Homo sapiens: one gene and its partners. The protein of the gene in region 3 purifies or fractionates together with the protein of the main gene of each other region. This does not show direct contact. Each region holds a gene or a part of one and is shown on either strand. Other genes may lie near its edges. The genes, in order: CNTNAP1, SULF1 and SYCN.

What was found.
Region 1: the proteins of SYCN (region 3) and CNTNAP1 purify together in Homo sapiens (affinity purification with mass spectrometry; one large-scale study listed by BioGRID and IntAct). This does not show direct contact.
Region 2: the proteins of SYCN (region 3) and SULF1 purify together in Homo sapiens (affinity purification with mass spectrometry; one large-scale study listed by BioGRID and IntAct). This does not show direct contact.

The regions. Positions count from the first base shown.
Region 1 is NC_000017.11:42,695,907-42,699,560, reverse strand, and holds part of CNTNAP1 (contactin-associated protein 1 precursor), read right to left. Parts: intron 3,537-3,654; coding exon 3,409-3,536; intron 2,288-3,408; coding exon 2,194-2,287; intron 2,008-2,193; coding exon 1,762-2,007; intron 1,659-1,761; coding exon 1,611-1,658; intron 944-1,610; coding exon 651-943; 3' UTR 1-650. UniProt on the Homo sapiens protein: Required, with CNTNAP2, for radial and longitudinal organization of myelinated axons. Plays a role in the formation of functional distinct domains critical for saltatory conduction of nerve impulses in myelinated nerve fibers.
Region 2 is NC_000008.11:69,656,785-69,659,221, forward strand, and holds part of SULF1 (extracellular sulfatase Sulf-1 isoform 1 precursor), read left to right. Parts: intron 1-1,720; coding exon 1,721-1,751; coding exon of another isoform or gene 1,752-2,437. UniProt on the Homo sapiens protein: Exhibits arylsulfatase activity and highly specific endoglucosamine-6-sulfatase activity. It can remove sulfate from the C-6 position of glucosamine within specific subregions of intact heparin.
Region 3 is NC_000019.10:39,202,179-39,205,771, forward strand, and holds SYCN (syncollin precursor), read right to left. Parts: upstream 2,086-3,593; 5' UTR 2,077-2,085; coding exon 1,682-2,076; intron 819-1,681; coding exon 809-818; 3' UTR 647-808; downstream 1-646. UniProt on the Homo sapiens protein: Functions in exocytosis in pancreatic acinar cells regulating the fusion of zymogen granules with each other. May have a pore-forming activity on membranes and regulate exocytosis in other exocrine tissues.

The DNA of each region.
Region 1 (3,654 bases), on a different chromosome or scaffold from region 3:
TATCTGCATTATTTTCTCTACGTTGCAGGTTTTTTATGGCTTTGGCTAAAGCAAGTGAAGCAGCGGAGGTACTAAGGTGCTAAACTGAGGCCTCTTGGTCTCTGTGTACAAAACAAAAGGAGGGGGGCAGGGGACAGCCATCAAGCCCTCTTGAGCCTCCAGCTGAGTGGAAGCAAATGGAAGATCTTCAGGGCAGGGGGGAGGCTGGGGGATAGGGTTTAGCAGCCTCCTCCCCCCATACCCTCTGCAGCCCTGCACTCCCACACATCTGTCCCTGCTGATAGTGTCTATTGGAAGGGAGGCAGTTAATCTCCCCTACACTCTGTTGTTAATCCCTGACAGCAGCTGGAACAGAGATGGCAGAAAGGACCTATGTCAACCCCATGAGGCTTCTCCTTTGGGGCAGATAAACAGCCAGGAGCCTGGGGAAACAGGGATGAGAAGGGCATTGGTTTAGGCAGTGAGGCTCGGCCACTCCCTTGGGTCCCATCTGTAGCTCTGCCCACCAAACTTGATGGGGGGGGGATGGGGGAATATCCTCTGGATGAGCAGAGCCAGCTAAGAGGAGCCAAATGTCCCTGATAGGATGGGGGAGAGGCAGGACTGGGGGAATGTCAGGAGCTGGAATTGGTCCCAGAAGCCCTTCTGACTCATTCAGACCTGGACTCCTCCAGGATCTGGGGTAGGTTCTGATCCCGGGGGCCAGGGGCTGGGGCTGGAGTTGGGGCTGGGGCTGGGGCTGAGGCTGGAGCTTGGTTGGGAGCTGCTGTAGGGGTGGGGACCTGGGCAGGGCCTGAAGTGGGTAGGGGAGGTTTGCTGCCAGGATGGTACTCGTGGGCAGCCTTGGGCTCATTGGTATGGTAGGAGCCCTTATAGCGATGATTTTGCAGATAGAAGAGCACCAACATTCCCACCAGCCCCAGCAGCAGAAAGGCCACCAAAACTGAAAAGAAGAAAAGGGACAATTCAGATCTTTGGGATCTCACCTGTATACACACACACACACACACACACACACACACACACGCACTCTTTGAGATTTCACCTGTATACATACACACACTTTGGGATTTCACCTGCACACACACACACACACACACACACACACACACACATTTACTTTTGGCCAAAAGCATAATGTATGACCCTCAGTTAGCTGTTCGACCACACTAAACTCATCTCAAGTGTCTGGCAGGTTTGAATTCCTGGCTTACCCCCTGCCACCTTCTGTTTCTAATATTCTCTTTCCACATCCCTGGTAGTTACCCCAATTTCTTATCTCTCTAGGTGTTACTGTATCCCCATTTTCCCATCCCTTAGCTATAGTCTCATTTTAATATTTTATTTAAAAATCTGTAGCATCCTCAAACATCTAAAAATCTCTGCCCAGTTATATGTCACCTTCAGCATAGCCTGTCTCATCCTCAAACATCTAAAAATCTCTGCCCAGTTATATGGCACCTTCAGCATAGCCTGTCTCATCATCCTTTGTGCCATTGTGCATCTAGTGCCTTTGCCATCCTGCAGCCTTGGGGATCAGGGGCAGGGAAAGGATGCTGACAGTCAGAGGGTAGTCTTGGGAGGTCAGCTTAGTGATCAGTGCTACTCACAGCCTAAAAGTATGGCAACCCATCCTTCATCATGGTAGTAGGGGAAGTCTGGAGAGGAGAAAGCACCAGTTAGGAGATGCCTCCTCCATGTTAAGAATCATTCCCTTCCGTGTCATCCCTCCCTTCTGTCCTCTGTGTCCTGGGAATGTACCTGGGGGCAGATACCAGGGATCAAGCTCAGGTGGCACCTCTGAAACAAGACGTGGCATAGCTCCGCAATTAGATTCGGACAGTTCTCCCTGAACTCGAAGGGCCTCAGCTAGCTCAGCAGTCATGGGTCGAGGGGTTCGGAAGTGGGTCTTGAGGGGAGCCACGTTGTTGAATCGAACACCAGACAGGCAGCCTGAGAAACCTGGGGTGTTGTAGCGCTGGATCTCCGGGTCAATGACTCCTGTCTCTGAGAGAGAGGCAGGCCCAGAAAGAGGGACTTGGACCCAAAGGCCCTGCCACTCTCACTGTCCACAGGTTTCCCACTCATCCTTCCCACTGCCCTCAGCCATTCCCAGGGCCTTCACTTTCCTTGAGGATCCAGGAACATATGCCACAGCTCCTTGCCTAAAACGCGTCCGCACCCGCAGCTTACCCATCACACGCCCTAAATACAAGGCCTTGGGTGAGTCCAACTGGCTGTCCACCAACAGCGAGAACTTCTGCTCTGTCAGTGGGAAGTAGTCCACCTGAGGTGGGGAGGGGGAGGGGGAGGGCGATGAGGGAGCGGGGACCAGAAGCAGATGCCTGTGGGCTGGACTGGAACTGTGTGGACCCTGGGAATATACTTGGGGGCAGATACTGGAGATCTCTCATTCTGTCCAAACTGGCGGTGCCAGCTGGGTGAGTCCTAGCTCAATCTGAAGTGGGCAACCCCTGGGCCTAGATGTAGGATTTGGTATATATATTTTTATTATTATTATTTTATTTTATTTATTAAATATTTTTCTTTGTGAAGATGAGGTCTTGCTATGTTGCTCAGGTTGGTCTCAAACTCCTGGCCTCAAGCAGTCCTCCCACTTCAGCCTCCCAAAGTGTTGGGATTACAGGTGTGAGCCGCTGCACCTGGCCTATATATTTTTTAAAACCCTGGTTTTAAGCCCCATCTTTGCAGCTTACCAGCGGTTTGACTTTGGGTAAACCACTTTATTTTTTTGAGATGGAGTCTCACTCTGTCGCCTAGGCCTGGAGTGCAGTGGCACGATCTCAGCTCACTGCAACCTCCACCTCCCAGGTTCAAGCAATTTTCCTGCCTCACCCTCCTGAGTAGCTGAAACCGCTTTACTTTCTGAGGCTCTTTACTGATTTGTAAAACACTTAAATAAGAATGCCTATTGTCTGGCTGGGCGCGGTGGCTCACGCTTATAATCCCAGCACTTTGGGAGGCTGAGGTAGGCGGATCATCTGAGGTCGGGTGTTCGAGACCAGCCTGACCAACATGGAGAACTCCTGTCTCTACTAAAAATACAAAATTAGCTGGGCGTTGTGGCGCATGCCTGTAATCTCAGCTGCTCGGGAGGCTGAGGCAGAAGAATTGCTTGAACCCGGGAGGCAGAGGTTGCAGTGAGCTGAGATCACACCATTGCACTCCAGCCTGGGCAACAAGAGCAAAATTCCATCTCAAAAAAAAAAAAAAAATGCCTATTGTCCCCTTGGAGCTATTGTGAGGGTTACATGAGGTGACACACGTGAAAATCCTCTATACATTCAAATGTGATCTACAAATATTAAGTATTTGATGTTTTCCTGGATGCCACAACGGAGACCATGAGGTTATGATCTGAACTGGCTCACCTCCCTCTATGCATACCTGGATGAAGAGGTTCCGGTAAACACGGGTGATATTGATGCTATGGGGCTGGCCATCGGTCACTGGTCGAGTGGTTAGCTGGTACACGTAGGGACTGGTGCCCAGCTGATATCGCAGCTGAAGGGTCCCTGTGGGGTGGGGAGAAGAAATTTGGGGTCTCAGGCCCCATGACTCCTATCTTCTAACAGCACGTGGGTCCTTGTATTTGTGAATCAATAGGAGAATTAGGGGCACCGGGGTGAAGCT
Region 2 (2,437 bases), on a different chromosome or scaffold from region 3:
ACGTGCATATGTCTTTATAATAGAATGATTTATATTCCTTTGAGTACATATCCAGTAATGGGATTGCTGGGTCAAATGGTATTTCTGGTTCTAAATCTTTGAGGAATCACCACACTGTCTTCCACAATGGTTGAACTAATTTATACTCCCACCAGCAGTGTGAAAGCGTTCCTACTTCTCTGCAACCTTGCCAGCATCTGTTGTTTCTTGACATTTTAATAATCACCATTCTGACTGGCATGAGATGGTATCTCATTGTTCTACTTTCTTTTATGGTAATTTGATATAGATTTAGGTTCTTTTATTTCATGGATTTATACTATTTACAACCCTCCTGGTTTAAGAGAATTCTTTTCTGTGAGTGTAACTAAGTATACTTCCTCTTTACCTTTTTATTTTATTATTATTTGGGAGTGAAAGTGAGAGAGGTTGTGTGTCTTCCAACTTTTCGTATCTCTTTTTTCTTGCAGGATCTGAAATTTCCCATCTTTTGCTTCCTCTTTGTTTTACCACCCAGTTTCCAATGGCTGTTTCTCCCTTCTCTCTTCCTTTGTGTCCTTTTCTGCCCTAAGCAATGCCTCCCAGACTGCTGCCTTCAATCGTGCACAGGCACAAGGCTGGGACTTAGGGGTCCCATCCTCATTGTCAGTGCTGTGGCTCACCAGGAATCTTTACAGTATTTTATGCAAAAGATTGACGTTCTTTCCACCAACAGCCTCCAATCAATCTTTGACTCCACTGACACTTCCCTCTTCTCTCTTCCATACTGTTTTCCCAGAGCTTGTGGCCACAGTGTGACATTCAGCTCTGCTGGGATTTGGTGTCAACGTTTTTTATCTACACGTGATCTGAAGATTGTAGGATTCTCTATCTTCTAGCTAGACCGAGGTTGTGGGTTTGGTATAGTTTTGCTTATTCTTCTTGCTGGTCTGTATGGCTTTATGGGTGGTCATTGCACTCATCTAGGCCACCTCTTTCCAAATGGTACTTAGGCACAACTAGAGAACAAGTGTTATTTTCTGCAGGGCTACAGTCATCCTGGAGATGTAGAAAGATCTGAGAGAGAGAAAGCTGGTGCCTTCTTTGCATATGAGAAAGTCATTCAGTTATCTAAGGCACACATTTATCTAGGACATAGAACTTTCAGGGCAAAAACAACAATCAAAGAAATAAATCCAGGCATTTGATTTGAAGAGCTTAATTGCATTCAGATTTGCTTTTATACTGAGTGTTAGGGAATATAAAATAAAAATATCATACTAAGCATTGCCTATTACATTCAAATACTTTCAAATTTGTCATTCACCCAGCAACCTTATAAGTAGTAATGATTTTATCATACAACTATTTCTACACTTGACAGATGAGGGAGCAAGACTCAGAGGGACTCACTCACATGCTCTTCTGGTTGCAAAGTTGATTTGAGTGGGGCCAGGAGTGAAACCCAAATCCCCTGGCTGAAAGGACCGTGCCATTTTCAGCACTAACCATGCTTAGTCATAGATGTTTTCACGAATGTGATCTTTTTTTTCCCCAATTTTCTGTTGTTTAATCACCTGTAACCTAAGGCCACTCTGTGATAACAAATGACTAGGGGAAAATGCTTTTGAGTGTCATACTTCTCATTGATTAACTCTGTAAAAACAATGTAAGTTGCTTGTCCAGGTAAGTAGAAAGCCTTTTCTCCACTAATGATTCACCTTCTTCTCTCTTTTCACAGAGGACAGTTATGGGATGGATGGGAAGGTTAATCAGCCCCGTCTCACTGCAGACATCAACTGGCAAGGCCTAGAGGAGCTACACAGTGTGAATGAAAACATCTATGAGTACAGACAAAACTACAGACTTAGTCTGGTGGACTGGACTAATTACTTGAAGGATTTAGATAGAGTATTTGCACTGCTGAAGAGTCACTATGAGCAAAATAAAACAAATAAGACTCAAACTGCTCAAAGTGACGGGTTCTTGGTTGTCTCTGCTGAGCACGCTGTGTCAATGGAGATGGCCTCTGCTGACTCAGATGAAGACCCAAGGCATAAGGTTGGGAAAACACCTCATTTGACCTTGCCAGCTGACCTTCAAACCCTGCATTTGAACCGACCAACATTAAGTCCAGAGAGTAAACTTGAATGGAATAACGACATTCCAGAAGTTAATCATTTGAATTCTGAACACTGGAGAAAAACCGAAAAATGGACGGGGCATGAAGAGACTAATCATCTGGAAACCGATTTCAGTGGCGATGGCATGACAGAGCTAGAGCTCGGGCCCAGCCCCAGGCTGCAGCCCATTCGCAGGCACCCGAAAGAACTTCCCCAGTATGGTGGTCCTGGAAAGGACATTTTTGAAGATCAACTATATCTTCCTGTGCATTCCGATGGAATTTCAGTTCATCAGATGTTCACCATGGCCACCGCAGAACACCGAAGTAATTCCA
Region 3 (3,593 bases):
AGATGAAGTCTCGCTCTGTCACATGATCTCGGCTCACTGCCAGCTCCGCCTCCAGGTTCAAGCCATTCTCCCGCCTCAGCCTCCCGAGTAGCTGGGACTACAGGCGCCCACCACCACGCCTGGCTAATTTTTTTGTATTTTTAGTAGATACGGGGTTTCACTGTGTTACCCAGGATGGTCTCAATCTCCTGACCTCGTGATCCGCCTGCCTCGGCCTCCCAAAGTGCTGGGATTACAGGCGTGAGCCACCGCACCCCGCCCTAATGTTTGTATTTTTAGTAGAGACGGGGTTTCACCATGTTTGCCAGGCTGGCCTTGAACTCCTGACCTCAGGTGATCCGCCCACCTCAGCCTCCCAAAGTGCTAGGATTACAGGCCTGAGCCACCACACCAGGGCTAAGGAAGGGCTATTACTGAAAAGGATGGGGCATGTTTCATATTTAACAATCAGCCCAAGGTTCCCCTGCAGTTCACTCACATGTCCTTCTGTGGGCGTGTGTCTTCGTGCACACCTAAAACCATGTCCGAGTCGATGGCGTGTCCTTATCCATGGCATTGTCCTGGGTATGGGCTGACCCAGGCCCAACCACCCTGCTGTCTCCTCCATCCCACCCGGTCCTTGCATCCCAGGGACAAGCAGATGACAGACGGGGACAACTGCACAAAGGCTGTATTGCAGGGGAGGTGGGAGGGGGCAGGCAGAACGCTCCTCCTCCTGGGTCTTGGGGCCCCGGAGCAGAGCCCAGGGATGGGCTGAGTGAGGGGCTTGGCACTCTGTGGAAGCTGCAGATGAGAGACCAGCAATGCATCAGCTGCACCTGAAATGTAATCAAGAATTCCTTCCAGGGGCTCTCAGAGACCCAGAGTCTGGTGAGTTCTAGAAGCCTGAGACTGGGTGGGGGCTGGGGAGTCTGGGTCTGAGGCTCCAAGTTCAGGAACCAGGGATCCTAGCCTGGGAGTTTGGAGCTGGGGGCTCCTTGGAGCTCTTGGGGGACAGGAGTGGCTGGGGAGGGTTTGGGAGGGTGTCACCGCTGGATCTAGGTCCCAGGTCTGTGAGTGCAAGGTGGCCTCAGGGACCTCCAGGGTTGGGTCTTGGGGGTGGGCTGTGGGACTGATTTTAGGGCTGAGGCTGGTCTGGAGGGTCTAGGGGAGTGGAGAGCATGAAGGCTACACTGGGTGTTCCTATAATCGAGTCTGGAGTCTTGAGGTCTGGGTTAGTTTTGGAGTCTGGGAGCTTTGAGATGTGATGATCTGGGGAGTGGGGGCTGGCTTTGGTTCTGGGGACTCCAGGGTGAGGGGGTCTAGGAGCTCTCAGTCCCCAGAATTAGCCAGCCCTCTCTGGGAAGTACAGCTGTGGGCGGGTGGGTAGGCGGAAGATTCCAGAAGGTGGAGGGTTGGCTCTGAATCTCAGAGCTGGGGCGGAAATCTCCGTCCCAGGGGCCTGGGCTGCAGGTGGAGTGGGGACCGGGTGCTGGGGGTGAGGAGAAGGAGGACCTGGTTTGGGTGAGGACTCTGAGATGGGGGCCTCCAGGACTGGTTCTAGGGAGGCCTGGTGCTCCCTGTTACAGTCGGGAGCTCAGGGGTGTGGAGCAGCCTCGGGGCTTGGGTGGTGGGTGTGGGGGCTTATGCGGAGCTGGGGCCTGGGCCTGGGGTGGGCTCGGAGCTTTGGGCGGCCGGGCACCTGCAGTAGAGCGCGGAGATAGCGTTGGACCAGTCTCCTAAGATGCCCCGGCGGTACTCCTCCAGGCGCGGGTAGGTGCCGGCAGAGAACTTGTGCGTCTTGCCCGCCTTGCCTTGCCGGGACCACACGGTGAGCTCGCAGCGCGGGGCCACCACAAGTGAGGAGGCGGTGTTGGCCCAGTTGGAGGGCAGGTAGGGCAGGTCTGCGCCCGACTCCAGCGACAGCTCGGCGCCCCCGCAGCAGTTCTCATAGTAGGGGTCGCTCTTGTCATAGAGCTTGGCGCAAGTGCGCGTCCCGTCCGAGTGCTTGAGGTCGGCGGAGGCGGGGCAGGCGCCCTGGGCGCAAGGCACGGAGGCAAGGGCCAGGGCCAGCAGCAGCGGGCGCAGCGGGGACATGGTGGCAGTGCCCTGCCGCAGCCCCGCGCGCTTTTATGCGCCCGACCCGTGGGAAGGGACAAGCTGCGAGATAAGGACTCATCGAGGGAAGGGGAGGGCGCCCCTCCCTCAGGAGCCGGGAGACCTGCCTAACCTAGGTCGGAAGCCCACAACCCTGAGTACAAGGTGGACGCTGTGTATACAACTTAGCACCTTAAGATGTTAGGTGACCAACAACATTATAAAGAGAGACAATAGACAGAACTTGAGGAGGAGTCATTTGCAACACAGAGGGTGGCATAGGTTAATAGACAGAAATGGGAAGAGCTCTTAAAAATTGACAAGGGGCTTGCTGGTTGCTCACGCCTGTAATCCCAGCACTTTGGGAGGCCTAGACGGGTGGATCGCTTGGGCCCAGGAGTTTGAGACCAGTCTGGGCAACATAGCAAGATCCCATCCCTACTGAAAAATAAAATTAGCTCAGCGTGGTGGCATGGCCTGTAGTCCCATCTACTCACAAAGCAGAGGCGGAAGGATCGCTTGAGCCCGGGAGTTCGAGGCTGCAGTGAGCCGAGATCGTTTCACTGCACTCCAGCCTGGGCAACAAAGACAGGAAAAAAAAGATAAGGAATGGAACAACCCTTATTCTAAATAAGGAAAGACTGGGAGGGGGAGGCAGGAGTGGGAGGCTGGGGCCTCCTGGCTGGGCAGGCTCCCTCCCTGGGAGGCAGGACCTTGGGAAAGGAGAAGCTGGAGATAAGGATAGAGGCCCTCGTGGTGGGGCGGGGGGGGGCAGGTAGAGAAGGAGATGGGGAGGAGCCCAACGCCCCACCCCCCACCCCCACCAGGCTCAGACTGGGCAATCTTCCCAACCAAGGCTGGCAATCCAGAATCTGTGAAGTACAAGATAGCAGTATTTGCATAACACGTTAAAAACCTTTTGCAAGACAGTGTACAAAGGCTTGAGGAGATATTTGCAACATTTCAAAAGCATAGCATTGCAAGCTATAATATATAAAGAGTGCACACAGGTTGGGCGCGGTGACTCACGCCTGTAATCACAATACTTTGGGAGACTGAGGCAGGTGGATCATTTGAGGCCAGGAGTTCGAGACCAGCCTGGCCAACATGATGAAACCCCGTCTCTACTTAAAGTACAAAAATTAGCCAGGCGTGGTGGCACATGCCTGTAGTCCCAGCTACTCGGGAGGCTGAGGGATGAGAATCACTTGAACCCAGAAGGTGGAAGTTGCAGTGAGCCGAGATCGCGTCAAAAAAAAAGAGTGCATACAAATTGACAAGAAATGCACTCCTCCCTCCCACATGCTAAGGACAGGCCTAGGAGAGGGAGAGGGAGGGAACAGCCTGCAACTCCCACCCCAGGAGCCAGGAGACTTTCTTAACTAAGGTTGGAAATCTTCAATCTATAAAACTTCAATCTTGTTTTATAGATTTTGAGCTGTATAAAACTGTAAAAACTGTCATATAGCAAAAACAAAACAAAACCCACAAACCCATCCAGGGAAAAATAGACTCAA